2 separate regions of the Homo sapiens genome follow, and region 2 is linked to region 1. A link means that fine-mapping ties the variant in region 1 to the expression of a gene that starts in the linked region. Tissue or cell type: whole blood. Region 1 holds a variant in brackets; the other region holds the start of a gene. All regions are shown on one strand. Distances are between the middles of the regions.

Region 1 (2,677 bases):
ACCAGGAACCTTCCTCAGACAAAGCCACCAGGAACCTTCCTCAGACAAAGCCACCAGGAACCTTCCTCAGACAAAGCCACCAGGGAACCTTCCTCAGACAAAGCCACCAGGAACCTTCCTCAGACAAAGCCACCAGGGAACCTTCCTCACACAAAGCCACCAGGAACCTTCCTCAGACAAAGCCACCAGGGAACCTTCCTCAGACAAAGCCACCAGGGAACCTTCCCTGAAAGGCCTGGCCTGAAAGCTTCACAGACGCCAGGGTGCCCGCAGTCAGGGAAAGGCCCCGGAAGGTTCCCAAGTGCTGGGAGGCTGAGGCAGGAGGATCACTTGAGCCCAGGAGTTTGAGGATTACAGGGACCTCACCTGGCCTCGAGATACATTTTATTTTGTTTTTATGTATATTTTATTTTTTGAGACAAAGTCTCGCTCTGTCGCCCAGGATGGAGTGCCGTGGCGCATTCTCGGCTCACTGCAACCTCCGACTCCCTGGTTCAAGCGATTCTTCTGCCTCAGCCTCCTGAGTAGCTGGGATTACAGGCGCCCGCCACCACACCTGGCTAATTTTTGTATTTTTAGTAGGGATGGGGTTTTGCCATGTTGCCCAGGCTGGTCTTGATTTCCTGACCTCAGGTGATCCACCCGCCTTGACCTCCCAAAGTGCTGGGATTACAGGCGTGAGCCACCGCGCCCACCCTGAGATAAATTTTAAAGGAAAAGACAAAAAAGCACCCCCTTCTCCTTCCCCCATCTCGACCTAAGAAGGGTGTTTGGGTGCATCCTCAGCCCCTCAGGGTGTTCCAGCCCCCAGCCGGTCCGAGTACCGAGGCTCCTGCCGGTCACCCCTGCTGGGGTCTGCCCTGGGGAGCAGGAGCTGTCCTCCTAGTCTGGGTGGGGCCCAGCTCTCCCTGCCCACCCCCGGCCCAGCTCCCACTAGCCCTGAAGGCCACCGTCCCGCTGGCCAGGGCTGGACTGGTGTGGGTGCTCCCTTCCTCCTAGGAGAGGGACTCCTGGGTCCTTCTTGGGAGATAGGGAGCTTCTTGGGACATGGGGACTCTTGGGAGATGGGGAACTTCTTGGGAGATGGGGAGCTCTTGGGAGATGGGGAACTCAAAGCACCCTACCCAGCTGCACTCTTGGCCCCATGGCCCCAGGACCTGGGATGCCGCCCCCACACAGCTTTGCTGGGGGAGGTGGTTTCCCACTTAGAGTGGCAGGGG[A/G]CACGTCCCCTTGGGGCAGCTGGTGGCCAGTCTGAGTCTGTTCAGAGGCTGCGACTGTGTGCCAGTGCCAAAGCGCCTCTAGAAAGGAAAGAATCTAATGTGCCACGAAGGCTCCATCCCCAGCTGCAGGTGGCAGATGGCCCGTGTGTGTGCTGTGTGGCTGCGGCTGCCCCCTACCCCCGATCACCCATCCCGAAGCAGGGTATGGGGCACTCCATGGAGGGCACTGGTCAGGCACAGGCTGTCTCCAGGGGACACCAGGGAGGAGGATCCCGAGTGGCTGAGACCCTGGCATCTGCAGAGGCGCCCCCAGGCCCACACACCCCATGACCTCAGGGGTCTAGGCCATTGCTGGACAGGCCCCAGATGACTTAGAACCACCAGGCCAGCTGCTGGCCCCATAGTCTCGGTGCAGGGGGGACGGGGCCACGCAGGTGTCCTCCCCACCGTGGCTGCCCGTGCGATGCTCCCAGTGGCCTCAGGGTTAGGTTCTGACTGCGGGACAGGGAGGTGGACTGCACGGCTGCTGCAGCCTTGAGGCTCCTGCTCGGCCCCCGCTGCCCCCGTCACCCCCCTGCCACCCTGCGTGCCGGGTGCACAGGTATTTTACATTTTGGGGTAAATGTTTAATCAAACATTTACAGAAAAGTCACAGGTAGAGTACAAAGAATGTTTTCGCTGGGCCATCTGAAAGTCCGCTGCTGAATTTGCTCCTCACTCCACATCCTCGAGTGCATTTTACAAACCGGGAAGTTTTTCGCCTCACGTAACCCAGCACAGCCGTCCCGGGGCAGGGCACGCCTCGGGGTCAGACCCCAGCCTGGGCTTCCCCGTGGCCCAGTGATGTCCCTCGCAGGAAGGAGATCAGCCTGGGACCACACATTGCAGCGAGCTCTCATTGTGTCTTCAGTCTCCGTCGGTCTGGAACATTCCCGGGCCTTTCCCTGACTGCCATGGTCCTGGCGTCTTCGAAGCTTCCAGGCCAGGCCTTTCAGGGAAGGTTCCCCCGTGTGGCCGTGTCTGAGGTCTCATCACAGAGAGACCCGGGTTACGCATCTTTGGCAGGAGAGGCATGGATGCGACGCTCATGCCTTTCATGGATGGCTCTGCTCAGCCCACGCTGCCAGGTGGGGCAGGATTTTCACTGACCCAGAACCAGTGGAGTCCACCGTGAGGCTGGTGGCGCGTCTCCGTGGGGAGCTGACTCCTCCTCCCTCTGCCCTCCATGGGGGAAGTGCCTCCATCCTGCCCCAGCCTGGATCCGCCGCTTCTCCAGGGAACCCCGGTTCTTTTCAGACGCGCACCTGGGTACTGTGTCCGCTCCTGCCTGCTGGGGAGCCGCTGCCCACGGGCCCTGCCAGAGCCGGAGAGTGCACACACACGCATGCGCACATACGTGCACCTAGGCAGGCACGCACGCACACACGCACCTGCGCAGGCACGCACACACGCACGCA
Region 2 (2,677 bases), 44 kb after region 1:
ACCCAAGGATGGCCTGGCCGGCTTCATCTCCTCCTAGTTGCTGGGTGTGCCACCCGCCAACTCCTGCAGTTCCAGGAATGGGCAGGGCTCCCTCCCTACCAGCTCCTCAGGCACATTTTGTGGGCAGGGTTTATGGGAAAATGTCGGGGAGGAGGGCAGGGGGTTACTACAGGCTACTGTATCTGTCCCAAATCAGGGTCAGGTTCTACCTGAAGATAGTAGTGTTAGCTCTGAGTTCATTCCAGACCCGTTTATTTGATTCTAGAAACAGTTCCTATCAAAACCTGCTCTTTTTTTTTTTTTTGAGACTGAGTCTTGCTCTGTCGCCCAGGCTGGGGTGCAGCGGCGCGATCTCGGCTCTCTGCAACCTCCGCTTCCTGGGTTCAAGCGATTCTCCTGCCTCAGCCTCCCGAGTAGCTGGAACTACAGGAGGCACCACCCCGGGCCAATTTTTGTATTTTTTAGTAGAGACCGGGTTTCGCCATGTTGGCCACACTGGTCTCGAACTCCTGACCTCAGGTGATCCACCCGCCTCGGCCTCCCAAAGTGCTGGAAGTACAGGCAAAAACTGCTTTTGAAACGCGTCCTAGCGTTTCTGGACAGCACCGGCCAGGAAGTCAGGAGGCTTGGTGCTGCTCCTGCGCCTGCCCTCGCCCCAAGTCCTGGGCTTCGGGATCCCCATGGCAACCCCAGGTCCCGCTGGCTGTGAGGCTGCGGCCGGAACCCGGTCTTCCCGGCTAGGAGCCCGCGGGGGGCGACCCCCTGCAGGGCTTGGCCTGCTGCGGGAGGAGGGCTCGGGGAAGGGTGCGAGCCGAGCCCGAGGCGCACGGCGAGTCCTGTGGGAGTGGGGGACGCGGGGGCGGCCCTGGCTCCGCCGCGGCACCTGGACCTCTACTTTCCGAGGTGAGCATTTGGGGGTCGAGGGCGTAGAGCGATCGCACCCTGAATGGAGCCCAGGGCAGCCAGCGACCTGTCCCGTGGCCCGCAGTCGTTACCGTTCCGGGGCGGCCGCCTAGGCGGGTCCCGACGCGGCCCGCGGGAGCTCGGGGTGCCCTCGCCCGCCGCTGCCATCTTGCCGCCGAGGGTTCTCTTAGCGACCAGCAACGCCCGCTTCCATTGGTCTTTGTCGCAAGGGGGGGTGTGGCCACGGGCCTAGTCCCTGAGCCCGCGCAATCTCTGGAGCGAAGCTAGCCGGGCCCGGAGCCAGAGGACGCAGCTGCGCCTGTGCGCGTTTCCGCCGCTGTCGTCTCTTCCGCCGGGAGGCCCGCCCGCCAACGGCCTGCGCGTCTGCGCCGGAAGCGGAAATGGTTGGAGCCCTTGGCCCCGCCCTCGCGCCATCTTGGGGGCCCTGGAGGCGGCGCCGCGGAGGACGGAGCGGAAGTGCTCGCTGCAGCTTCCCGGAGCCGGAGCGCAGCGCCTGCGGCCGCCCGTGCCCCGCCGTCCTCCTTCCCGCGGCCGTGAGGGAGACCGCGGCTCGGCCGTAGCGGAGCTGCGAGGTGCCAGGAAGGGCTGCGTGGCGCGGGAACGGCCGGGCAGCGCCGCCTCCGCTTCTTCCGGGCTGTCAAGGCCGCGGGCGGGCGGGGCCGCGCTGAGGGCCGGGCGGGGAGGGCCGTCGGGGCCCGGGTGGCCGCGGGGACCGTGTTCCCGACCCGCGGCCCTGAGGGGTACGGGTCGCGCCTCGGGGTCGGGCCCGGGACGGGGTGCTGGGGGGTGCGGCGGAGCCCTGGGGCCTGCGAGGGTCGGGGGAGCGGGAGAGGGGCCGGGCGGGGGCTGCAGCCCTCGAGCCACCCGGGCCGCATCTCGTCCGCATCCCCTGCTTGGCATCTGGGGGAAGCGGGCAGTCGCGGCCCCCACAGCGCTGCGAGTTGGGCTGTATTCCAGAGTAATGTGCCCTGTCCCCATCCTGCGTCCAGGTCAGCGCTTATCTGTAGGATTTAGTGTTAAGCTCTGGGGTGAAGGCGTTACTGACGGGCTGAAGGGAAACTAGTTACATCGGTTTTGATCGTATTCTAAATAGGCAATAAAATCATAAATTCTCCAGGCTGACTTAGTACTGGTCTGTGGCCCCACTGATAAAGGTATCGTTCGTTTCTCTGCCAGGTGTCTCACAGCACAGAGGGCTGCTTTCAGCCTAAGTACCTTCAGTGGGCTTTTGCCCTTTTCCCTTTATGAAGAGTAGAGACTGGCCGCTAGTCCTGGAAGCACTTTATTTTTAGTTGAGTTGACATTTCCCAGGAAGATGCAGTTATCCCCGTAAGTGGATAAAGGGTTCTCAGTAATTCAGACTCTCACATGGCTTCTGCCGTATGCCTGAGGTGACGGCGACGGCGGTAACAGTGTGTCAGAGCCAGGTGGAGATATAAGATGGTCAGGCCCAGAGGAGCGGGGAGCCCAGGCTGGAATGTGGCCTTGGGAAGGAGGAAGAGACGGGGTCTGGGAGGGCATTTCAGAGGACTGAACAACACCAGAGGCGTGAAGCTTGGTGCACGGCAGCCGGGGGCTTTCTTAGTCCCGGAGGAATTGGGGATGGGGACGTGAAGAGAAAGGTGGGAGCCAGACTGTCAATGCTCCCGGACGCCAGGCAGAGGACTTCATCCTTTCCACGTGCAGAGTGATGGACCACAGATGTGGATGAATGTGACGGGCCTGGAACAAGGCACATAGAGAGTCTTACACT

Evidence for each region. PIP is the estimated chance that this variant, and not a neighbour inherited with it, causes the effect.
Region 2: MORN1 starts here. The variant in region 1 is fine-mapped to the expression of MORN1 in whole blood (TOPMed, PIP above 0.99).

The regions. Positions count from the first base shown.
Region 1 is chr1:2,345,989-2,348,665 of GRCh38, forward strand. The region is part of intron 10 of MORN1 (MORN repeat containing 1); the gene reads right to left. Among named protein-coding and RNA genes, the nearest start is that of MORN1, 44 kb to the right of the region's middle. The variant A/G (reference allele first, on the strand shown) is at 1,221.
Region 2 is chr1:2,390,463-2,393,139 of GRCh38, forward strand. It overlaps MORN1 (MORN repeat containing 1), which reads right to left and starts at 1,092. Exons shown (of 14, transcript NM_024848.3): 1 at 996-1,092. The coding sequence starts at 1,071. It overlaps RER1 (retention in endoplasmic reticulum sorting receptor 1), which reads left to right and starts at 1,379. Exons shown (of 7, transcript NM_007033.5): 1 at 1,379-1,496. RefSeq lists silencers at 665-794, 955-1,024, 1,155-1,264, 1,365-1,664 and enhancers at 1,088-1,382, 1,251-2,123.